Linked DNA regions of Homo sapiens: all the other regions are linked to region 1. Evidence: fine-mapped expression QTL. A gene starts in region 1. Each other region holds a variant in brackets. All regions are shown on one strand. Distances are from middle to middle.

Region 1 (4,086 bases):
GGGCTAATGTGTCTTAGATCTAGGCTGCAACCAGGGTAGCAGCTTCAGGAGAAACTCCAGTGGACAAGGCAAGGGGAGCAGGGAGCAGGTACAGAGGGGACAGGCATGGAGGGTGACCAGGCCACTGCGGGGGTCCTCTGGACAGATTTCTGACCCTCAGATCCTCTCTGGGTCCACACAGGATAATGCACACGCTGCCCACAGAAACTCAGTTTGGTACCACCTCTCCCCAGCCCTGTAACACACAAGCATTCACACACACACATACACATGCACCACACACACACACACACACACACACACACACACACACACACTTCCCATCTAGATTGCATCTAGATTGCAAATTCTCTAAAACCTCCACGGGAATTTTTCAGATGCAGCCAAGAAGAGTCTGGGGCAAATGTGTGCTCACTAATTGCTGGCCTTGGTACAGAGTCTGATTCGGGAGACAGCTCTCCTCAGGGTCAGATTTCTGTCTCTGACCAGCTGGGGGCCATGAAAATGTGCTCGAAAGTTATCAAAATATGCACACCTTTCCTGAGAGCCACTGCAGTCACCGAGGAGTGTGGGAAGGAGGAGTAGGTAGGTTTCAAAGGAGCCAGCAGCCTTCTCCAAAGCCCTGTTCAAAAATCTCCTGGTGTAGTCACCTCTGCGAGCAGTACAAAGGCCCTGCATGTGACCAAAATCTACACACACACAGCCCATTACGGGGACTCTCATGGCCTCACGCTATTAAGGTGGCCCCTTAATACTAGGAATTCACACAGAAACACATTCTGCAGGAGAGTCACAGAAAACAAAGTATAAAGGTCTGTAAATACACACACTCAAACACACCCAAACACACACACACACATTCTACTAGCTTACTGGGTCTAGAAAAGAAAAGGATCAAGTTTCCTCAAGAATTCACAAGTGAGACAGAACAGGGGAAGAGAAATGCTATTTTTTTATTACTTGTCATGGTCAATATCTTTAACCTTGGGCCCCCCTCTCCAAGCTCCTGACTTCTTGGCATTATCCACCGGGTTCTCCATCCAAGACACACCTGCCCCTTTTCGGGTGCTGAATGTTACATACCCCAAGCCCCATACCCAAAGCCCTCAGGTCCCATTGTCTGCCTGTGTTGGGGATGGCTGGGTGTGGAGGGAGGCGGGTGAGTAGGGGACCAACGCGTGGCACCTGCAGGGGAAGAATTCTCAAGGCTCTGGGGCAAACAATGGAGAAGAAGGGGCAGACCAGAAACTTCGCCTCCATCCCACCCTGCTGCCCTTCGTCAGGAGCAAGCTCTGGGAGCGGGAATCTGCGCAGCTGGCTCAGAACGCGGCCGTAGCCCCATGTGCCCAAAAGGAGACATTGTGCTTGGCGAGTGTGGGAAGTGTCCCTCCTGGGTGCAAGGAAGGCTTTCTGACACCAGTTCGCAGGCACCCTGGAGGAATAAAGCGCTGGCGCAGTGAGGAGGGCCTGAGGGTGCGGAGTGCAGGGTGCAGGGTGCAGGTGTGAGGACGGAAGCTGACAACCCCGCCGAGGGCCCTTTGAATCCCAGGGATGGGGAAACCACGGCGCTCCTGGCTCCTGGCTCGGGAAAGACCCCGGCAGGCACTGACCCGTCTGTGGGCTGCGGAGCCCGGACGGGCCCCAATGGTCCTGCCCCCACCCCCAAGTCCGGAATTGCGTCTGGGTGGGAGGGCAACCTCGGAGCCAGGGAGCCAGGGGCGGGGACCATACTCACAGGCGCTCGGTGTTCCGAGGTATATTCTTGGGAATGGCCTGCAGCCCCGTGCCGTGGCAGTCCACCGTGGTTCCGGTGCAGGTGCAGAGGGCGGGGCACGCCGAGGCACCCAGGCGCCACGCGGCTGCCCACAGCAGCAGCCAGAGCTCCGGCCGGACCGGCCCCGCCGAGGACCCCCACCCGGGAGTCAGCGCCATGGTGCCCTCACAGCGTCCCGCTCGCGAGCCAGACGGCAGCAGCCGCTGACCATCCCCGTCCGGGGCCGCCTCCAGGTGCAGTCCCGGGGCAGAGCCACCGAAGAGCCCGCGGGCTTGCGCGCGGCGCCCCTGCGGGCTGGGAGGCACCTTGCTCCTCCAAGCGACGGCGCCTGTGCGCGGACGGAGGGAGGGCGCCTTGGGCGGAGGGGGCTCGGCTCCTCTGCCGTTTCGCCGCCTGCGTCTCCCTCTCCCTCCCTCCAGCTCCCAACTGACTGCTGCGAGGAGGAAAATGGGCAGGCCCCGCGCGCGCACGCACCCTGCGCACACACCACACACACACACACGATCACACACACACCCGCGCGCTCGCTCCCACCCGGCAGTCATCCATCAATCGAAAAGCACACATCCAGGGCCAGGCTCCTCCCCGCCCTCCCCCGCCGCAGCCCCCCTCTCCCGACGACCACTCAGCGGCTGCAAGCCGCCTACAGTTTCAAAGGTGGAACCTCCGAGGCGCCGTCAGCGGGCACGGGGCTGCGGGGGATGGGAGAAGAGGGAAGGGGGTGTGACTCGACCCGCCAAGTCCTGGCTGTACACACACACACACACACACACACACACACACACACACACACACGGCGAGGATGCGCACATTTAGACGCACGCACCCCGGCACCCGCGGCCCCAGCTGCTAGTCCAGGGTGGGAGGGAGATCTTATTTTGCCGCTTGGACGCCTTCCCGGGGAGTCAGACCCGTTTCCCCCCATCCCCCGACGGCAGCAGCGGCCTCTCGGCCCCACCCGACTCGCTGTGTCAATTCTTGGTTAAGGGAAACCCTGTGCCTGTGCCCCAGGTAGCATCCTCAAGCCACCAACCTTACTTAGCCTGGACTTTGAGGATGGAGCTTTGTCGGGGGGGAGGGTCCACGAAAGCGCTAGGCGGAGTACAGTCTCCTTCCTACCTCAATGCACCCACTTCTCAGAGGGGAACAAGCTAGCCGCATGCCCAGGATGAGAATGGCTCTGATTGGAACACTTGCTCAGCAGGGCGTATTTGTACCATACAGTTACACGGGCTTCTTCCCCCGTTGTAGAAGAGAGGGACAGACATTAAGGGGACTTGGAAATCTGGCAAACGTCTTCCTCCACTCACACCAGCGTTCCTCCATTTCTGACAGGTGGAAACAGATGAAAATGAATATTCCATCTTGACATCAAAGGAGACAGAGAGGGCTGGCATAGCGCTGGGCGGCCTGCTTGGGAGAGAACCCCACAGGCCAGCCCCGTCAGACCCAGGCCTCACACCCGGCTGGGTAGGGACCTTCGTCACCGTAAGGCATGTGTGGACGTGGGTGTGAACGGGACATCCAGGTGGGGAGAGAATTCTCCTCAACCCCAGAAAAGACGAAAGATCTCCTCAACGCCAAGGACAGCTGTGGCTCGCTGGGGCAGTGTCCAGCAGTCGGGGCCTTGACGTGAGGCTGCTTGGCAAGAGGACACAGCTGGGTAGCCCGAGAAGCACCTCCCGTCTCAGGAGCGGCCTGGGTCCAGACACAGCATGGACGCATTTGGTGGGGAGAGTGTCGGGCAGGGTGGGGATAGGGGAGGTTGATAGACTCCACAAGGTTGAAGCCTTATCACCCACCAGGTACCCAAGGCTCAGGCGTTTTCTTTGCTTTTCTTTTCCATGTTGATGAGAATTTTGCAGTCTCTCTACTGTCATAGCACAGTATGTTACAATTTAGGTGGCTGATTTTATGGGCTTTTGACAGTTCTTTTAAAGTTTTCACACATCCCTGTCCATGACCTCCATCCGGTAAGTGGGTTCTTGAGCATAAGTTCAGTTTCTCAGGGGGCAGGGCTTTCTCAGGGGTGCCTGTGTGGTGGGATATTAGGGAAGCTTCCCACAAACCAGGCCGGAGTCTGAGAGGGCTGCCCCTGCCCTGCAGCTCACCAGCTCCTGCTCCATGGGGCCCCAGCCCCTCTATCCATGCTCTCCCCGCAGCCTCAGAGTGACATTCCTCCATGCCCGCTGCTTTGTTTATCCCCTCTTAGTACCTGCAGCTGCTTCTCCACACCCCTGCCCACCCCCTGGCATCCTCACTCGCTCACCCAGACACACACCCCAGCACCTGGCACTTAGTAGGCCTGTCAC
Region 2 (4,086 bases), 71 kb after region 1:
TTCATAAAATTTTTTTAAATTTGCACATCAAAACACACTATCAACAAAGTAAAAAGGCAACCCACAGAATAGGAGAAAATATTTGTCCATATAGCTGATAAAGGATGATATCTGGAATATAAAGGGATATCCATCAACTGATGAACAGATAAGCAAAATGTGGTATATACACACAGTGGAATACTACGCACCCTTAAAAAGGAAGGAAATCCTGTCACATGCTACTGTGTGGATGAACCTTGAGCACACTATGCTAAGTATAAATAAGGCAGTCACAGAAAGACAAATACCGTATGAGTCCACTTACATGAGGTACTCAGAGTAGTCAAATTCATAGAGATGGAAGGTAGAATGGTGGTTGCCAAGGATGGGAGGAGGGTTTTACGGAGTTACTGTTTAATGGGTACAGAGTTTCAATTTTGCAAGATGAAGAGTTCTGGAAATGGATGGCGATGATGGCTACACAACAACGTGAATGTACTTAATGCCACAGAACTGTACGCTTAAAAATGGTTAAGATGGCAAATTTTATAAGCATTTTACTGCAAGAAAAAAAGAAACCAGAACTGGATGATCTTGGAAACTTTCAGCCTCTCCAGATGGCAAAAGATGCTAAAATTGGCACACGCCTGTAATCCCAGCACTTTGGGAGGCTGTGGCAGAAGGATTGAACCCAGGAGTTCAAGACCAGCCTGGGCAACACGTTGAAACCCTGTCTCTACAAAAAAATACAAAAAATCAGCCAGGCGTGGCAGTGTATGCCTGTGGTCCCAGCTACTGGGGAGGCTGAGGCGGGAGCATCACTTGATCCCAGAAGGTTGAGGCTGCAGTGAGCCAAGACTGTACCAATGCACTCCAGCCTGGGCGACAGAGTGAGACCTTGTCTGAAAAAAAAAGATGCTAAAATTAAGAGATTCACTATCAAGGAAGTATACACTAAAGAAAAGGTCAAGGATGTGACTGTGCTACGTTTTGCTAAAACCTTAGAAACATCAAAAGGTCAGAGTATTCAATCATACAAAGGGCCCTTTCAAGAGAGTAAGAGCGTACCTCACAGATCCTCTCAATTAAACCAGAAAGCCTTTAGGAAGCTTAAAGGTACTGTCCCTTAGGTTTCTCAGCAGGTGACCAAGGTAGGGAAAGATTTATCTTCAAAAGATTTGTATATGTGGCCTTTGTCTAATAGAATGAATCTCAATGAAATCCACAGAAGACCTACAAAGTTCTTAGAAAATTATGTCAGCAGAAATACAGCCTGTTTGGATTGAAAGGGCCAAAGAGTACAAAATGACCCCCAAAATTCTACTGGCAGACCCCCAAAACTCTACTGGCAGTAAGCAGGCAGGATAAAACTACCTAGCTGCCACGTGTGCTGCCTTTGTGAAAAAGGAAGAATGGCTCAGAGGGTGGAGTCAGTTACCCAGAGGACCCAGCCCTACTCAGCCTCCTATTCCTACTCCTTTCCACCATAGTGGTTGTTACCCCCTGGGTTTTGCCACTGTCCATTCTGGTTTGCAATCCCATTCAGGACCTTTTTCTCGTTTAGTTATCTTTATAGCCCCACTTAGGATCCCACCTTGCTCCATTTTCTTTGTCCTGTTACCAGCCAAATGCTATCCCTTACCTACCTTAAAAAGTTTCTGGGAGTGTTTAATCATAAAAGCCATCCCACTGTTTAACTTTGTGATATTCTCCTGAAGGTCATTTGCAGTGACCTATTCAGAGGAAAAGAAACCAAACAATGGACATTAAGAGCTAGAAAGTAGTACTTACCAATAAGCCTGTTCTTTCAAATGTATGAAGTTTCTATCCCTAGCCTAGGTGCCTCTAATACAATGTTTAATTCTGGGAAGACTTTTTGGTTCATCAGGATATGACATAATCTAGAAAAACAATGTGTCCCTGAAGTGACGAGGAAATCCTTGAAAACCATTTTCATTTCCTAATTCTGCTTGAAAATTAGACATGTAAACAAAATTGGCAAGGAAAATCTAGTCTAGGATTCAAAATGGGCAGAAAAAAACAGAATCTGTTCCAGCTATCAAGGACACCACTGCCTCTTTAGAAAACTAGAGTTTCTCCAAAGACAAAAAAGAATGGTCACTACTGATACCAAAGGTGACATCTGTTTCTTAAAAACACAGTAAAATTACCGGGCGTGGTGGCTCATGCCTGTAATCCCAGCACTTTGGGAGGCCAAGGCGGGCAGATCACGAGGTCAGGAGATTGAGACCATCCTGGCTAACACAGTGAAACACCGTCTCTACCAAAAATACAAAAAATTAGCCGGGCGTGGTGGCGGGCGCCTGTAG[T/C]CCCAGCTACTCGGGAGGCTGAGGCAGGAGAATGGCATGAACCCGGGAGGCAGAGCTTGCAGTGAGCCGAGACCGCACCACTGCACTCCAGCCTGGGCGACAAAGCAAGACTCTGTCTCAAAAAAACAAACAAACAAACAAACAAAAAACACAGCAAAATTGTCATTGATTCCCTTCCCTTGTTTCTCCTGTCTTTTTTAAGTAATTCAGTAACTCTACTATCCCAAAGCCCTCATTTTCAACATGTATCTTTGTTACTTTATCTGTTTGCTTTTAAATACTTTTTTTTTTTTTTTTTTTTTTAGAGATAGGGTCTCGCTTTGTTACCCAGATTGGAGTACAGTGGTGCAATCATAACTCACTGCAGCTGCAAACTCCTTGGCTCAAGCGATCCTCCCACCTCAGCCTCCCAAGTAGCTAGGAGTATAGGCATGTGCCACCACGTCCAGCTTATTTTTCTTTTCCTTTTGTAGAGACAAGGTCTCAAGGTCTCAAGGTCTCACTGTGTTGCCCAGGCTGGTCTCAACCTCCTGTCCTCAAGCAGTCCTCCTACCTCAGCCTCCCAAAGTGCTGTGATTACAGGCGTAAGTCACTACTTCTTTTTATAACCACAGTTTGCTCACTGCTTTTCTATAGTCTTGGTTAGCTGGTTCTAAAATTCCTTCATTATAAGGCTTGATCTCCTTAATATGGACAAATGTTGATGTGTCTTCTGCTCCCCCTACTCACCCCCAGAGGCTCTTCCTGACCCAGAACTTTATTATTTTTTCACTAGTTATTTTTTAAGTAAAATGTTTCACACAATCTCTCTCCTTTACCTTCCTTTTCTCATTACTTATAATCTCAAAAATTTTTTATAAATTACTATAACCTATTTCTATTATCTTCCCAACAGCCTTGTGGGGTATGTAGTAAAGCTATTACAGTAAGTCCTCACTTAAGGCATCAATAGGTTCTTGGAAACTATGACGTTAAGTGAACCGACATACAGCAGGTCCTCGAATAACATCATTTTCTTCAACATCTTTTCATTATAACATTGATGAGAAAAATAATTTGTTTTGTTATAGATTATTTTGATTAAAGTTTCAGTTTCCAAGAACCTATCAACGATGTTAATAGGTTGAGGACTTACTGTATTATGCCCAGTTTACAGAGGAAAAGCCTATGCATAGAAAAGGCAAAAGACTAAACAAACAAAAAATGGCTTGTAGACAGCTGTTTAAAACATGAAAGGTAAAAGGCCAGGCGCGGTGGCTCACACCTGTAATCCCAGCACTTCGAGAGGCAGCAGCGGGTGGATCACCTGAGGTCAGCAGTTCGAGACCCGCCTGACCAACATGGCAAAACCCCATCTCTACTAAAAATACAAAAATACAAATATTAGCCAGGAATAGTGGCTCACGCCTGTAGTCCCAGCTGCTCAGGAGGCTGAAGCAGGAGAATTGCTTGAACCTGGGAGGCAGAGATTGCACTGAGCTGAGATTGCACCACTGCTCTCCAGCCTAGGCAACAGAGGAAGACTCTGTCTCAAAAAAAAAAGGTAAAAGACATAGGTAACATCGCTGGTGTGTGGCTTCCAACCCACCTATCCTGGCTCACAACTCCATCACATAGTAAAACCATATTATAAGTGGGCAGGAATATGAGCTATGTACCTCCAGGTCAACAAGTTGTTTAAAAGACTTTAGATGAGGCTACAGTGAGTAGTGATTGTGTTACTCTCCTCCAGCGTGGGCAACAAAACGAGACCCTGTCTCAAAAAAACAGAAAA
Region 3 (4,086 bases), 120 kb after region 1:
AAGAAGGCTCCCACCAGATGCAGCCCCTTGACCTTGAACTTCTCAGCCTCCATAATTGTAAGAAATAAATTTATTTTCTTTATAAATTACCCGGTTTCAGGAACTCTGCTATAAGCAACAGAGAACAAACTAAGACCCTAACCCAGGCCTCAGGTCAGAAGGCCACAGGGGCTGGTGGGAAGTTTCAAAGCAGTAACACATTTGTGATAGTCAAGAGCAAGCCAGTACATTGTGAGCCCACTACGTTGGATGTTGCCTCCATGGTCTTGTGAACTGATGCACAGATCCCTTTTTCCTACCACTGTAACCCATTTTCATGGAGTTTGTTTTGGTATGAAGAGAAATTTTGCACATAAAGTCTCTATAGTGATTAGGAAGTAGGATGAAGGTCAGGAAAGGCACTAATATTTCCCCACCTCTCTGTCCTCTAGATATGGAGGCTTCAGAGTCAGCTTCAAAGATTCCCCCATTCAAAATCAGAAAGTAAGGCCAGGCATGGTGGTTCACACCTGTAATCCCAGCACTTTGGGAGGCCGAGGCAGGTGGATCACTTGAGCTCAGGAGTTCAAGACCAGCCTGGGCAACATGGCAAACCCTGTCTCTACAAAAAACAGAATTTTTATTTATTTATTTCATTTTTCTTTTTTCTTTTTTGAGACAGAGTCTTGCTCTGTCACTCAGGCTGGAGTGCAGTGGCACGATCTCAGTTCACTGCAACTTCCACCTCCTGGGTTCAAGCAATTCTCATGCCTCAGTCTCCTGAGTAGCTGAGATTACAGGAGTGCACCACCACACCCAGCTAATTTTTTGTATTTTTAGTAGAGATGGGGCTTCACCGGCCTGGCGTGGTGGCTCACACCTGTAATCCCAGTGAGTCGGGCAGATCACAAGGTCAGGAGATCGAGACCATCCTGGCTAACACAGTGAAACCCCATCTCTACTAAAAAATACAAAAAATTAGCTGGGCATGGTGGCGGGCACCTGTAGTCCCAGCTACTCGGGAGGCTGAGGCAGGAGAATGGCATGAACCCGGGAGGTGGAGCTTGCAGTGAGCTGAGATGGCGCCACTGCATTCCAGCCTGGGCAACAGAACAAGACTTTGTCTCAAAAAAAAAAAAAAAGAGATGGGGTTTCACCATGTGGCCCAGGCTGGTTTTGAACTCCTGACCTCAGGCAATCTGCCCGCCTCAGGCAATCAGTCATGAGCCATTGCGCTGGGCCTAATTTATGTGGGTGTTTTTTTTTTTGAGATGGAGTCTCGCTCTGTTGCCCAGGCTGGAGTGCAGTGGCGAGATCTCAGCTCACTGCAACCTCCGCCTCCCAAGTTCAAAGCGATTCTCCTGCCTCAGCCTCCCAAGTAGCTGGGACTACAGGCGCCCACCACCACACCGGCTAATTTTTTGTATTTTTAGTAGAGACGGAGTTTCACCATGTTAGCCAGGATGGTCTCGATCTCCTGACCTCGTGATCTGCCAGCCTCGGCCTCCCAAAGTGTTGGGATTACAGGCATGAGCCAACACCCCTGGCCTAATTTTTGTATTTTTAATGGAGACGGGGTTTCACCATGTTGGCCAGGCTGGTTTCGAACTCTTGAGCTCAGGTGATCTGCCCACCTCGGCCTCCCAAAGTGCTGGGATTACAGGCGGGAGCCGCTACGTCCAGCCAAAAAAAGTGCAAAACCTAGCTGGGTGCTATGGCTTGCACCTGCAGTACCAGCTACTCTCAAGGCTGAGGCAGGAGAATTGCTTGAGCCGTGGAGGTGGAGGTTTTAGTGAGCTGAGATCACACCATTGCACTCCAGCCTGGGTGACAGGAGTGAAACCCTGTCTAAAAAAAAAAAAAAAAAAAAAAAATCAGAAATAAAGGAAATTGTCCTTCAGCTCCTTAGGCTTACACATCCCCATCCAGGGATCTAGTCATTCCCATCCATAGGACTTACCTTCTTTCAGAGTTATCAAAAGAGCT[G/C]CTTTTGTTCATTCACTTACACTTTAATGTGAATTAAATACAAAACTACCTCTTCTGAAATATGTGAATTTATTTGTTTATTTATTTATTTATTTTGAGATGGAGTCTCACTCTGTCCCCAAGGCTGGAGTGCAGTAGCACAATCTTGGCTCACTGCAACCTCCACCTCCTGGGCTCAAGGGATCCTCCTGCCTCAGCCTCCCAAGTAGCTGAGATTACAGGCACTTGCCACCATGCCTGGCTAATTTTTATATTTTTAGTAGAGATGGAGTTTCACCATGTTGGTCAGGCTGGTCTCAAACTCCTGACCTCGGGTGATCCACCAGCCTCAGCCTCCCAAAGTGTTGGGATTACAGGCGTGAGCCACCACCCCCGGCCTGGAATAAGGACCGCTTCCAATTGTGAAAGAAAATGCTTGTTGCCCAGTTAACATAATTCCACATAATCATTTTGATTAGGAAACCTAAACAACTTCTGGAGAACTCAAGAACTCTGTCCCAGGCTGCCATTTCACATTTGCTGCATTTCTAGATGTGTTTATATGATTGCTTGAGTGGTGTTGTCTTCTACTGGAGTGTAGCTTCATGACTTAAGAATCTTTCGGCCAGGCACAGTGGCTCCCGCCTGTAATCCCAGGACTTTGGGGGGCCAAGGTGGGCAGATCACCTGAGGTCAGGAGTTAGAAACCAGCCTGACCAATGTGCCATCTCTACTAAATATACAAAAATTAGCCGGGCGTGGTGGCATGAGCCTGGAATCCCAGCTACCTGAGAAGCTGAGACAGGAGAATTGCTTGAACCCGGGAGGCAGAGGTGGTGGTGAGCTGAGATCGCGCCATTGTACTCCAGCCTGGGCAACAAGAGCGAAACTTCATCTCAAAAAAAAAAAAAGGATCTTTTTTATTTTAAGGCTGGTCAAGTGACACATTTGGCTTTACTTAGCCAACTATTTGTTGAATGAATAAAGGAACAAATGAATCAAACCAAAGATTCCTGGCCGGGCGCGGTGGTTCATGCCTGTAATCCCAGCACTTTGGGAGGCTGATGCGGGCAGATCACAAGGTCAGGAGTTCAAGACCAGCCTGGCCAATATGGTGAAACCCCATATCTACTAAAAATACAATTTGCCAGGCGTAGTGGCAGGTGCCTGTAGTTCCAGCTACTTGGGAGGGTGAGGCAGGAGAATTGCATGAACCCGGGAGGCAGAGGTTGCAGTGAGCCGAGATCACACCACTGCACTCCAGCCTGGGCTACAGAACCAGATTCTGTCTCAAAAAAAAAAAAAAAATGCATAGAAACAATGAGATTATTTAGATCTTATGGAAAAAACACATCCTGCCTATATTGGACATAGGATTTTGTTCTGATGCATGCAGCATCTCTGTAGAGGTTCTCTGCTCCTTTATGCTCCTTTATCCTCAGTCCATGTGTTTTAAGTGGCATTGATCCCATTTCTGGCTACAGGAGTGGGCAAGCGACACAGGCCTGGCAAATCAGAGGAACCTAACCTCTAGATTCATGGATCTGACAGTCTAGACCAGCCCAACTCACTATAGAAAGGAGGTATGTGGTAAGGGCTCACTTGGAGGAACCAAAGAGAGTGGGAAGAAGGAGAGTGGGAGGAACCACTGACTCTTGGTGAGAGCAGAGATAGCTGCATGAGGAGGTTTGTAGCTGGACTAAGATTTAGATGGGTGGAATTCAGGGAGTGCATTCTCTACACAAAGAGCAGGAACAAACATGGGGTGATAGGAACATGTAAGATGTTTTTGAAAGCTGGCAAGGGCCCAGTTGACACGAACAAAAGGTTTATGTGGAGGTGGAGGACAAGATAAAGTTGGAGGAGTGGACCAGGGCAAGCCCCCCTGAGAGTTCTGGACACTGTGTTAAGGAGTGGAAGAGTTTACTCCAGAGGCCATGTGGACCTGTTCAGAGGGGAGGCCGTGGGTAACCTGAGCAGGGTTGGGCATTAGGAAGTTGATCTGTCAGAAGAGTGGATTAAAGGGAAAGAGGCCGGGGTTCTGACCCAAGATGCATGAACCTGGCCAAAAAAACATTAAGGGCATCGGGCAGTAGGACCGAAATAGAACCACCAGCTGAGGCACTGAAGAAAGAATCAGTG
Region 4 (4,086 bases), 66 kb before region 1:
CTCTAATAACTTATTTGCTTGGAAAATTTGCTCCAAACATACTCTCCATGTCGATATTTGCTTGATGTTTGCTTGCATTTAGCTAGCATAATAAAGGTGTTTGTCTTCATGTTAACAACTAAAAAAAGGAATATGACTATTCAAGGTTATAAATCCACAAGGGTGTGGATTTCCAGGAACAACCCTTGAGGCTCTATAGCATACTACTGCCACCTGGTGACAGTGTACCAGGGGTAAATTGGAAGGGTAGAATTTGAGAGTATATAAATAATCTCTTCGGTTGCTGAGTCTGAAAAAGTCCATGAGGCTTGGGCCATGCAAGTGACGCACATGCAAGTCACTCAGTTACCAGCAACTATTTTGAAAAATCAGTGAACTAAGATCCACTTCTGGCTCTCCCTGAGGACAACTCATTTCCGAGTTACAACCTGAGTTCCTTCTCTGTGAATGGAGGGGCCTAAAAGACCTCTGAAGTCACTGCCGGCTCTTATATTTGAATGTTCTGTAAATGTGTCTCAGAATGAAAGCTCAATGAATACATTTCAGAAACCCCAGGGGGATCTGTCAAAATGCAGAGTTCTGGTTCCAGCCTCAGATTCTCAATAAGAAGGTCAGGGGTAAGGCTCTGAAATCTACATTTTTTAATAAACAGCTTCCTCATTCTCTAGTGTTTGAGCATGGCTATTCCAAATCTTTGCATTTACTATTTAAGATTCTACTTTATTAAATTGAGACGTTCTGAGGTGTCTGGCCCCATCACAGTACGCTCACATTTCCTGAGGGCCTGAATATCACATAATACTCAGTGCAGCTTTACAAGGACTATATGGTATAAGAAGGTTTTAGGCCCATTTTGCTGATGGGGAAATTGAGACTCAAAAAGGTGACACGAGCAGCCCGAGGTCACAGGCTGCGTAAGCTGGAGCTGGGTTTGAACCCTCAGTTTTGGGATGCCCATGAACTTCCCAAAGAACTCAGGGCCTTCAGGACTTTGTCCTCCACTTCTTGGCGCAGCAGGACTTGGGGCACTGACCTAGCCATGGAGTTAGAGCCCACTCCCCACTTTTAAGGGCTTTCTGCAGGCTTCGGGCACACTCCAGACTCCAGCCCATGCATCTCTTGGCCTCCCTTGGCATCTTCTGTGCCACCCATCAAAGCGCTCCTCTATCTCCAAAATGGCCGTCGCAGGTTCTGACCTTCAATAGAAAAGGCGAAGGTATGACCAAACCTGTTCTCACCTCTTCTGCCCAGGAGAACACACATTATTAAGGGGGAAGGAAACATGGCTCATCTTTCCTGTAACTGCTGCTTCCACTTAAAAGACATACCGAATGATTCAAACCCAACTCTGTCACACACTAGCCACGTAACCTTGGGCAAGTTACTTAACCTCTCTGAACTATACATAATTTCCTCACCAGAAAAAATGGGGATAAAAGAATCCTCTCTTATAGGATTGCTGTGGGGATTAAATGAGACAGTACATATAAAATGTTAGCCATGACGACTGGGATATAGTAAGTGCCCAATAAATTATAGCTAAAAAACAAAAGGCATACACACACATGCACAACATATGGCTTGGAGAGAAACGGAAATACATCCCTGCTCTGACATGTCTGTTTCACTCAGGCATGCACAACGTGACCCCGAAGCTGGAAGTTTCCACGCAGCCCAGCAGCGATGGGCCATTCAGGCAGGCACTGCCTGGGGTCTCTTGTGTTCCCCTGGAGGGGCAGTGTTCTAGCTTGGGAAACGGGTGTCTGGCTAAAGTCAAAATTAGGAAGAATTCTCCGTCCTCACCACCCCTCTTACCTTCCTGTAAACCCATGGGAAACTCCTCAGGGAACCCCACCCTCACAGGAAGGTCAGGGGTCAACTCATCGCCATCCTATTGGCTGGCACAGAAATGGTGGGCAGATCCCCCTTCCCCGATCCTCCCAGGTGGGAAGTGGGTTTATTTCTCTTTTAATGGAAAGGGGCGGGGGAAGCTAGTGGGTCTGGCCAGCCTGGCTGCTGCCTCCGTGTTCTTCAATTACAGGGACAAAATGATTTGATGCAGGAACCAAGCAGACATCTGGGTTCCAGTTAGCATCTGACATGGGGCCTTGCTAATTAATCTGGAAACATGAATTCACAATGGCTCAAATCCGAGCGCAGTCAGGGAGAAAGCCAGCTGATGGGCCGTGAACAGAAGGTGGGTTGCGACGGGGCGGTGCGAGGAGGTCATCGGGAGGGTCTGGGAGGACTCAGGAGACGGCGCCTTGGGTTCACCCATCCTCCCTGGCTTTGCATCTGACCCCCAG[A/G]GACAGGCAGGAGGTGGCTCAGCAGCGGTGGGGAGGGTCCCGGTGGACGCCCACTCTGTGTTGGCAGCCAGCGAGGAAGACAAAGGGACTCAAACATTTCACCCCATCAGCTAGATCAGTCCCTTCGTTCTCACCTGGAGCAAATATGCCCAATGTTGGCAGATTGGCCCATCTTCCTGGGGCTTCCAATTCTTCCTCACTTAGTCTTGAAAGTTTAGGAGGAAATACATATTTTTTTTCCAAAGGGGTATATATATATATATATATATATATATATATATGTATATGTATATAGATTCAAAAGTACTTATCCATTTAACAAACATTTATCTGTCAGTTACCTTCTAGTTGAGCCTTTATTGGGCACCATCCATAGAGCTAAGAGTTTTACAACATTATGACATTTAATCCTTATGAATACCCAAAGAAGTTTTAGCTCCATTTTACAGTTTAGCAAAACAGGACTCAGAGAGGTTAAACTAGTTGCCTAGGACTGCACAGCTAGTAAGGTGCAGGGTCAGATTCAGCCCAGGGTTGGGCAAGAAGACAGTGTGCCAGGCCCGCTCCCCACAGCCACTTCCCTGTGACTGCTGAGCTCATCCCCAGCTGCCCAAATGAGACCCAAATGGCTTTGGGGCTCTGTGAGAAAGGAGGGGCCGCAAGTGAGCAGACCCCACCCTCCTTTCCAATGTCTGCTTTACATCTCCGGTGCCCTGTGAGATTTACTTGAATACACAGGACTGTTGTCTGAAAAGTGTGTGTCCTCCTGATTCAAATCCACTGCTCCCATTTCACAGTTAAAGAAACAAAACTCCGGGCAGGCTCAAGGACTTGTGTCGGGGTACTGGAGCCGAAACGCAGTTTCCTGACTCGCAATGCTGCTTCACACCGTGTGCACGGGCGGCTCTGAGCGGCGGCGCAGTCCTTCCTGGCTCCACATTTTCACAGGCTTTGCATCCTGCTGAGGGTGCAGGCTAAGTCACCCACCCTCTCTGTGCCTCCTCCTAGGATGTTGATGATGCTAAGCGGCCGACACCTCCGGAAGAGTTCAGCACAGTGCTTGGCACACAGCAAGTGCTCAGTAAATATTAGCTATTCTCATCACTTTGCCTCATTGCTCCATGGTAGTAAGACAAAGGCCCCTATCACCCACTGGACTCTGACTCTCTCTCCCTACCCTACGGGAGAAGCTGCCTGAAATGAGAGCCGATCCAAATAAAATGCTTACAATGGTTCCTGCCACATAGAAGGGTTCATTCAAGCTTGGCTAATATTGTCATGACTATTACTATATTACCTGGACCGCCTTCTCTCTCCCGGTTCTGTCCCACCAAAACTATTAGATGTCAAGACGGTCTCCCTGGCCTGGAAGTGCCAGCATCTCACACCTCTCTCCAGGCTGACAGTTGGCACTACTTTGCATTCTCTCCTTCTGTAGACCTATTCATTGCTCCCCAGTTTCCTTTGGCTTCTGAAAATTAATTATCAGTGATTTGTTAAGTTCATTAGCTCTGCCTCTCAACAGCATGGAAGGCCTGCCATCTGGACCCACATTTTCACTTTTATGCACATTGTTCCATAATTACACAATAAGTGGTGTCACCCTGAGAAGCCACGCTGAAGGCAGTCGGCTTACCCCCTCCCTTCTGCAGACTTGGGAAATCTCTCACCAGGACGAGCTGATCTGTCTACTCTGCTCTTAGAGCTGCCATCCCTTCAAACATGTGCAGAGCCCCACCAGCTTTCCCTTCTTAAACACAAATGCACCCCGACTATGCAC
Region 5 (4,086 bases), 22 kb after region 1:
AACCTCTTTGTGATCCAGGGATGTGTCTGTGGAACATACTCTGTCCCCAGCAGGGCCCTATACAGCTCCTACCCACCTCTCTTGTGCAGAGGCACTGTTTCTTCAGGGAAGAAGGGCCAAGAAGCTGCCACATCGGATCACTGCCACAAACACTGGCTCCGTTCCCGCCCCCATCACCACTGCCCTGGCCTGAGCTCAAGCCCCCATGGGACCCCAGTGCCAGCCCATCTGGCTACCCGGCCTCCAGGGTCTCCCTTCCAACATGAGACAGCCAGAGGGGCTGCCTGGAGCACATGCCACTCCTCCATTTGAGCACCTTCAATGGCTCCCTGGATCTGCACCATCCGGCCAGTCCCCTAATGTTGCCACAAGGCCCTTGTGATGTGGCCCTTGCCTAACATTTCCAACTGTATGTTCTCAGCCAGCCAACTATATGCACAGAGTTTGCCTGGAACATGATACATGTTTGTCAAACACGTGTCCCCTTCTGCATTAATTTACTATGTGCCAGGCTCTGTGTGTGGCTCTGGGATGCAGTGGTAAGCCACACGGACATAGTCTCTGCCCTCAGAGAGTTCACAGTCTAGTACAGGAGGCAGACTGCAATGAAACAAAAGCAATCACAAGAGCTTATCAGGGCAGGGTGTGGTGGCTCATTCCTATAATCCCAGCACTTTGGGATGCTGAGGCAATCGGATCGCTTGAGCCCAGAATTCAAGACCAGCCTGGGAAACATAATGAAACACCCTCTCTACTAAAAATACAAAAATTAGCCGGGCGTGGTGTCATGTGCCTGTAGTCCCAGCTACTTGGGAGGATGAGGTGGGAGGATCACTTGAGCCTGGGAGGCCAAGCTGCAGTAAGCTGTGTTCATGCCACTGCACTCCAGCCTCAACAGAGTGAGACCCTGTCTCAAAAAAATAATTAATTAAAAAAAGAGTTTATAGTTACAAATTATAGTGAGAGCTATGAAGGACCCATCCATGAAGGATGGAGAGTATTAGAGAAGTGTGACTTTGCCTGGGAGTCAGCAGCTCCCCTGAGATGACACCAACCTGACATCAGATGAATGAGTAGTCACCATCCAGGTGAGGGGTTTGGGGGTGGAGGGAGAGTGTCCCTGATGCTGAGGCCAGAGAGCACCCACAGGCTCTGGGATCTGGAAGCCTGGGGGCAGGTGGGCCCTAGGGATCCCAGGGCTGTGAGTGGAGATGCAGATGGGGCATGATCCCCCTGAACCGAGGAGGGATGGGAATGAAAACAGGGAAGCCTGGTGAGTGATGCTGGGGGTTTGGACTGATGTCATCACAGTAGAAATGCCAAGTCAAAGGGGACTTTTTAATTGAACTTTTTTATTATGGAATTTTAAAAAATAAATAAATGTAGACAGAACAGTACCATGAACTCCTGAACCCCTCATCCAGCAGCATCCACAACAGCTGACCCACAGCCAAGCTTTTCTCAGCTATACCCCACCCACGCTCCTTACCCCAAATGTATGATGCCGAAACAAATCCCAGATTTGTTTGCTGTGTAGTTCACCCATGGATATTTCAGTATGTATCTCTACAACAAAAGGACTGTTTTTAACATAACCGCATTATCACACCTAAAAAATAAATGATAACACAAGGGGAAATGTCTGAGGCTTGATATTTATTGCCAAACTACCCAGAAAAGCCCCCCGCCGACCCCAAGCAGGTGTGAGGGTCCCCATCTCACTACACACTTGCCAACACTGGGAGTTACAAGAGATGGATTTCTACAAGAGGCTCACCCCAAAACCGAGGAGCTAACCCTTAAATTCCAGGTTCACTTAATTAAAATGAGGCAGCCACAGAAACACTTTCTGTGGAAATCTCTCTCACACATCCAATGGCCACTTGTGAGCGGCCAGCGATTGGGGGTTGTAGAGACAGGAGGTGGTGAGCCCAGCAACCCCTGCCAGCTCCCCAGGGTGGGCCCAGTACCGGTTCATGGAGTACCCTGCCGGCTCCCCAGGGTGGGCCAAGTGTGGGTTCACAGAGCACCCTGCTGGCTCCCCAGGGCGGGCCAAGTGCGGGTTCATGGAGCAGGGCCCCTGCCCATCCTTCATCTCCCACATCTGCCCTCAGCCAATGGGGCAGACTGAGAAAGGGTTTCCTTAGGACCCAAGGGTTTCCAGAAACAACCCACCAGAGCCAGAGAGGGAAGGACCAGCAGGTGCTCCCTCCTATGGCAAGCACATGCCCCTTCAGAGCTCAAAGGGTTTCTGTTTGAGCTGAAACCTAGGGACTCACTGCCTT[G/A]CCTCTCCTCAGACCTGTGCCCCCCCTACAGTGACTCATGGGCGTCCCATTCAGTCAGGAACCTAGAATATTAAAAGATCTACAAGCCAGATAGGTGAGTTTTCAGGTTCAGAAAGCAGTTTCATCTTTCTAGTAAGATGGAGGCAGCCACAGTTCCAGAACTCTCTGCGCAGTTCCCTAACCTTTCTGAGCCGTGGTCTTTACCTAATCAGGTTTGACTTCCTGCTACAGTCTCCTACTCTCAGTCCAGAATAGAGGCGGCAACCAGGCATGGTGGTACGTGCCTGTGGTCCCAGCTACTCAGAAGGCTGAGGTGGGAGGATCGCCTGAGCCCTGGGAGTTCAAGGTTGTAGTGAGCTGTCATCGCACCACTGCACTCCAGCCCAGGTGAGAACCTATCTCTAAAAAAATTAAAAATAGAGACAGCTGTCCTTCCTGCAAGCCAGCCAGCCAGACACTGAGTCTTTGCTGTGTTCCAGGCACCCTGCTAAGCCAGGGAGATGCAAGGGTGAATAGGAACTGATCCCTTCCCTGCAGGAGCTCACCATCTCTAAGAAAAGCAGTCACATAAACACTGTGCAACGTGACCAGGGCTCCAGAAGAGATGCGTTCATGCTGCTGTGGGAATTCAGCTAGTGGAGCCAAGAGCTCTGCCTGGAGAGAGAAGGCTTCTAGGGGGCGGGATCTTAAAAGCTGGGGCTTGAATGACACTGGGGAAAGTCAAGGTGGGGGAAATCATCTCCTGGACAGGACATGAACTAACACTCTTTGGATTCAAGCAGCAGAACATCTTTTCATACACTTACTGGACATTTGTACGTCTTATTTGAAGTAATGTCTATTCATATCCTTGCCCATTTTTAAATTGGGTTATTTGTTTTTTTTTATTGTTGAGTTGTAAGAATTCTTGGCCAAGCTCAGTGGCTCATGCCTGTAATCCCAACACTTTGGGAGGCTAAGTCAGGAGGATGGCTTGAGCCCATGAGCCCAGGAACGTGAGACCAGCCTGGATAAGACAGCGAGATCCCATCTCTACAAAAAATTAGCTAGGTATGGTGGTACACATCTGTAGTGCCAGCTAATGGGGAGGCTGAGGTGGGAGGATTGCTTGAGCCCAGGAGGTTGAGGCTGCAGTGAGCTGTGATCACATCACTGCACAACAGCCTGGGAAACAGAGCAAGACCCTGTCTCAAAAAAAAAAAAATTCTTTATATATCCTAGACACTACTCCCTTGTCAGATATATAAGTTGCAAATATTTTCTTCCATTTTGTGAGTCTCAATATCCTTTCATACCTTTTGAATCTGGTGCCATATACATATACTAGCTATTCAGATATCATAGGTAATTCAACATTTTCTGGAGCCACAATAAGAAAGTAAAAAGACAGCTGGGCGCGGTGGCTCATGCCTGTAATCCCAGCACTTTGGGAGGCCAAGGCGGGTGGATTGCTTGAGGTCAAAAGTTTGAGACCAGCCTGGCCAACATGGTGAATCCCCATCTCTACTAAAAATACAAAATCAGCCTGGTGTGGTGGCGGGTGCCTGTAATCCCAGTCACTCAGGAGGCTGAGGCAGGAGAATCTCTTGAACCCGGGAGGTGGAGGTTGTTGCAGTGAGCCAAGATCGTGCCACTGCACTCCGGCCTGGGCGACAGAGCAAGACAGAAGCTATATTATGTAGAATTCCATGACAGTGAATGAGGTATTCCATGGACACAGATGGTTGCACTGGCAGAAGTATTTTGGGAAGAGATGGCAAATCCATATCTAGAATAAGAGTCTGTTCCAGTGAGGACAAAA
Region 6 (4,075 bases), 42 kb after region 1:
AAGTGGAATCTGCCTAAACACATTGAGTGAGCACTGAAGCCCACCTTAGTGTGCTGTATAAGCTGGTTGGATAGTTAGTGGTTTCCCCATAATATTAAAAAAGAGAGACAGGGCCTAAGCACTCTCTCAGAAGGCACAGCTTGCAAACATCATCCAGTGAGTGGGGTTAGAGGTATCAGTCGGGTCACGGTATTAGTTGGCTTTGACAATTCAAAATGCAGCAAGCAAGCTGCAAGTCCAAGCTTTGCTGTGGGCAGGAATAACACCTGCCCACTAAACAGAAAATTCTGCATGGACCATAGGAGACAACTCTGGATCCTTCAGAGAAATCCTAGGTTGAAGGAAAAACAAGAGCGTTAGACATGTTCTTAAATATTTCTTTTTGCAAACATCCCACTCAAAAGCTACAGGGTCTACACTTAATATTTTCTCCAAACTGAAGGCTAATGAGTTTAATTAAGAATGTGTGACTCTACCAAATAAACATCTGCCTGATATAATCTCGTTCATTAAATCATCTTAATGGCCGTAACAGCTAACAGTAAGTACATATTTTGTGCTGCTCTAAGTTATTTATGTACATTATTTATCCTCACAATAACCAGTATATGAGGTACTACTCCTACCATTTTACAGAGTAAGAATCTGCAGCCTACATAGTTCATTTGCCCGAGGACTAATATATAAGCTATTAAGCAGCAAAACTGGGAATGGAACCCAAGCCCAGCTGAATGCAGAACTCATGCTCCTACCACCACCGCCCCTCTCAACACTCAATGTTTACTAAAAGCCGACTCAGCACAAGGCACTGTCATTTTTCGGAAGATGAGAAGAACAGGAGACAGAAGGCCACAAATACACTAAGTCTGACCTTTGTCTTCTAGAAGAAAAACTAGTTACAGAGATAAGACAATATGTGAAGTAAATACAGTAAATCATACTAAGTGTCAATATTTTTGTAGCATTAATAAGTTCAAAGGAAAAAGTATTATATTTGGCTGTGTTAGCCAGAGAAAGTTTCAAAGAGGAGGTGAGATTTAGGCTAGACTTTGAAGAATGGGTAAGATTTTGACTACTGAAAATAATGGCCATAATAAGTAGGTGCTAAATCAGTGGTTCTCATGTGGAGATGACTTTGCCTCCTCACCCACCATGGGACATTTGGCAATGTCTAGAAGCACTTTTACTTATCACAACTGGGGGAAGGATGCTCCCAGCATCGATGGGGTAAAGGCCAGGAAGGCTGCTCATCATACAGTGCACATGGCAGCTCCTACAACAAAGCATTATCTGAACCAACATGTCAGTAGTGTGCCAAGGTTGAGAAATCCTGTACTAAATAATAGTCTTTTTGGATTATGTTGTTGATCACAGTAATAAAATTACATTATCTTCTTCAAAGAATATGTTACTTTTATTATAAACATCACTATCAAAAAATCTGAGGTTGTATATTCATTGTTGTATAAAAGAAATACATGGCAGGCACCTGGATCTGTGGGCTTGGAGACTGCCAATGTCTGAAGAGAGTTCAGACCTGGCATTGCCAGGCTGGAAGTAGTTATCATACAGAGAGCAGAGCTGAGCAGTGGAAGGAGACCAAGCTGCAAAGAGGCAGGAGAAGCAGGTGCAGAAACGAACAGAACTTAAGAGCAGAACTTAAGATAGAGCATTGAAAAAAATAAAGATGTAGTGGAATAGGCAAACAACAGTAAGCCACTGCAGATAAGGAAAAGAATTAAAGAGGAAGAAGAACGAGAATAATGTAGCATCATAACACCAGGAAGGCATTTCCAGATAGAGGAAGTGACCAGGAGAGAGTAAAGTGAAAATGCCATTGCCTGATCCAATTGAGGGTCATTCATTATCTCGACTTCTCTGAACTACTAACATTTTTGAGAATCTAATTAGAACCATATATTCTCTCCCCCAGAAAAATACACATATGTACCTACACAAAAGATTGCATCAACAATACCGGGAACTTTATTAGACCATTTAGGAAGTCCACAGATGACAAGGTCAACAATCCCTGCTCTAAAGCTTATTGGTGAAATATTAGACTGGTTTTTAAAAAACGTCTTTCTTTCTTTCCAAGGTAGAGCTGTCAATACAGAAAGGTATTATTTCCGCATGTCTTTCAAAAATGACAGCAACAAAAGTTGTAACTGATACAAAACAATGTAGCCTTCAAAAATAACTTATGCTTGGTTTTGATTCATGGACATACAGAAATATTTAGACACAAAAAACTCAAACCCCCATCTTGTCTCAATTAGACAGCCCAGCCTGGAAGACAGAAGCAACGAGGAAAGAAAAGAGAGTTTAGATAATTCATTCAAGGATAAGTAAGAAGAATATACTGAAATCTAATTTTCCAGAAAAGAATTTATCCATAAGGATTAGGCTTTTGATCTCTGCCTATT[G/T]CTGATGTCTCAAATAGTAATTATGCTCATATCCCAGTGATAAAACAATCATGTCAAACCAGACTCACTTCAGCTGCCACATGAGCCTTATATAACAAGACCAGGTTTCAGCCCGTTTTCTACAGTAACAACTATAACCACTTGTTAATGATTTAACAATGACAATGTGCTGCCAAAACATTATTTCAATTGAGCCTCATAATAAATTAATAAATCTGTGAAGTAGATGTAACTTTTATCCTCATTTTCAGAGGAGAAAACTTGAATTCATAGAGAATGGGTGGTTTTCCTGGGTCAGAGGAATGATAACTCCCATCAGGACTAACCACAAATCTCACGGTCTTTCCATTGACCCACTTGGCTCCTTCAGAGGAAGGCACAGCAGGCTTTTACCAGAAGAGCCTGGGACAATCAGCAGTCCCAGCATTAAATAGTCCTCTTTGTCCTAAATAGCCCCCAAAATATGCTGTATGATATGACTTCCAGGATCCTTAGGCACGAGCTGTTGATCTAGAAAGCTTCACTAATTAGGGCTGGCCTACACAGAAAAGGAACCTAACTATTCCATAAGCATACTCCCAGCACTGTTGAACTTGGTTTCACAAATTCATTTACACTTGTTTTTAATTTGCTTCGCAAGTATTCTTAAGGTATTTTCCCCCATGTGTCCTGTCTGTCCAAGAACACAGGGACCATGTGGGTCTGTGTTCACAGCTCTACCCTTAGCACCCAAGACAATGCTGAGTAAATGGTTCAATAACCATCTGGTGAATGAACTCAAGGGCAAGGACCTGGCCTTGTAATTTTTATGTCACTTCTGACTACAAATGTACTATCCTGGGAATTCAAACAAATGCTACTGACTAGATGCAGAAAGGAATTACATTTAGTAAGAACAGAGAGTAAGTACAATTAGTACCTTTTTTCCCCTCTTTCTTCCCTTCAGACCACTTCAATCTTGTTGGTGTCATCGTGACAGCTGGAGAGCCAGAAAATAACTGTAATAAGAAAATTGTACAGTGGTTTCAATGTTCTAATGCCATTCCTATAGACAGACTTTACTAACAAATGAATTATTTGTTCAATTTCAATGTGAAGAGTTTTTCTGAGACTGATGTATTTATATCTCATTAATCTTAACTGATTTACTGCTGGCTTAATGAAGTAGGCATGCCTAGGATATCTTGAACCACCACCCCACAGGTAATATAGAGCCTAGGAGGCCTGGCTCAAATGTCACCTGTGGAATCTTCCAGTAAGAACTAATTGCTTCCTCCAGCACTTGTTTAAGGAGCTACTGTACTGTACTACTCATCTGCTTGTGACTAGTGATATCATTCTTGAATTCAAAATGTGTTTGTTTGTTGAATGAGTCAATGAAAACCAACAGAAAGAAGGTAGCATAAATGAAAGGATTGAGAAAAAGCCATTTGAATGGCCCAAAGAAACACAGTAAAACAGATGACAGTATATCAATTTTCCTCTTTTCTACAAATATATACAGACAGACAGACAGTCCAAAGAACAGTGTCTTACTAAGTTCCTATTTTCTTTGCTGGTTCCCTTCAATTCACCAATGGCCACAGATTCTGGAGTAGGGTTCTTCTTTTTCTTTTCTGACATCATCTGATTTCCCAGGACCTTCCGCT

Direction of the effects. Alleles are on the strand shown, and positions count from the first base shown. SD is a standard deviation of normalised expression in the study named. Not every link is listed here.
For the expression in subcutaneous fat of the gene that starts at base 2,217 in region 1, allele G in region 6 goes with a lower level than allele T (moderate effect, 0.49 SD a copy in GTEx).

The links. PIP is the estimated chance that this variant, and not a neighbour inherited with it, causes the effect. A credible set is the group of variants that fine-mapping cannot tell apart.
Region 2: its variant is the best candidate, but not a certain one, in a credible set for the expression of SLIT1 in whole blood (TOPMed, PIP 0.56).
Region 3: its variant is the best candidate, but not a certain one, in a credible set for the expression of SLIT1 in whole blood (INTERVAL, PIP 0.51).
Region 4: its variant is the best candidate, but not a certain one, in a credible set for the expression of SLIT1 in thyroid (GTEx, PIP 0.79).
Region 5: its variant is the best candidate, but not a certain one, in a credible set for the expression of SLIT1 in whole blood (INTERVAL, PIP 0.52).
Region 6: its variant is the best candidate, but not a certain one, in a credible set for the expression of SLIT1 in subcutaneous fat (GTEx, PIP 0.70).

What each region holds. Positions count from the first base shown.
Region 1 is chr10:97,183,743-97,187,828 of GRCh38, forward strand. It overlaps SLIT1 (slit guidance ligand 1), which reads right to left and starts at 2,217. Exons shown (of 37, transcript NM_003061.3): 1 at 1,736-2,217. The coding sequence starts at 1,932. All of the region lies in intron 11 of ARHGAP19-SLIT1 (ARHGAP19-SLIT1 readthrough (NMD candidate)), which reads right to left. RefSeq lists enhancers at 2,061-2,561, 2,562-3,062.
Region 2 is chr10:97,254,690-97,258,775 of GRCh38, forward strand. ARHGAP19 (Rho GTPase activating protein 19) reads right to left here. Exons shown (of 12, transcript NM_032900.6): 6 at 1,629-1,715. It overlaps ARHGAP19-SLIT1 (ARHGAP19-SLIT1 readthrough (NMD candidate)), which reads right to left. Exons shown (of 15, transcript NR_037909.1): 6 at 1,629-1,715. Among named protein-coding and RNA genes, the nearest start is that of ARHGAP19, 36 kb to the right of the region's middle. The variant T/C (reference allele first, on the strand shown) is at 2,313.
Region 3 is chr10:97,304,093-97,308,178 of GRCh38, forward strand. No RefSeq gene overlaps it. Among named protein-coding and RNA genes, the nearest start is that of FRAT1, 13 kb to the right of the region's middle. The variant G/C (reference allele first, on the strand shown) is at 1,966.
Region 4 is chr10:97,117,360-97,121,445 of GRCh38, forward strand. All of the region lies in intron 4 of SLIT1 (slit guidance ligand 1), which reads right to left. Among named protein-coding and RNA genes, the nearest start is that of SLIT1-AS1, 17 kb to the left of the region's middle. The variant A/G (reference allele first, on the strand shown) is at 2,307.
Region 5 is chr10:97,205,274-97,209,359 of GRCh38, forward strand. The region is part of intron 11 of ARHGAP19-SLIT1 (ARHGAP19-SLIT1 readthrough (NMD candidate)); the gene reads right to left. Among named protein-coding and RNA genes, the nearest start is that of SLIT1, 21 kb to the left of the region's middle. The variant G/A (reference allele first, on the strand shown) is at 2,286.
Region 6 is chr10:97,225,802-97,229,876 of GRCh38, forward strand. ARHGAP19 (Rho GTPase activating protein 19) reads right to left here. Exons shown (of 12, transcript NM_032900.6): 10 at 3,963-4,073; 11 at 3,346-3,424; 12 at 1-331. The coding sequence ends at 321. It overlaps ARHGAP19-SLIT1 (ARHGAP19-SLIT1 readthrough (NMD candidate)), which reads right to left. Exons shown (of 15, transcript NR_037909.1): 10 at 3,963-4,073; 11 at 3,346-3,424. All of the region lies in intron 2 of LOC105378447 (a long non-coding RNA gene), which reads left to right. Among named protein-coding and RNA genes, the nearest start is that of SLIT1, 42 kb to the left of the region's middle. The variant G/T (reference allele first, on the strand shown) is at 2,427.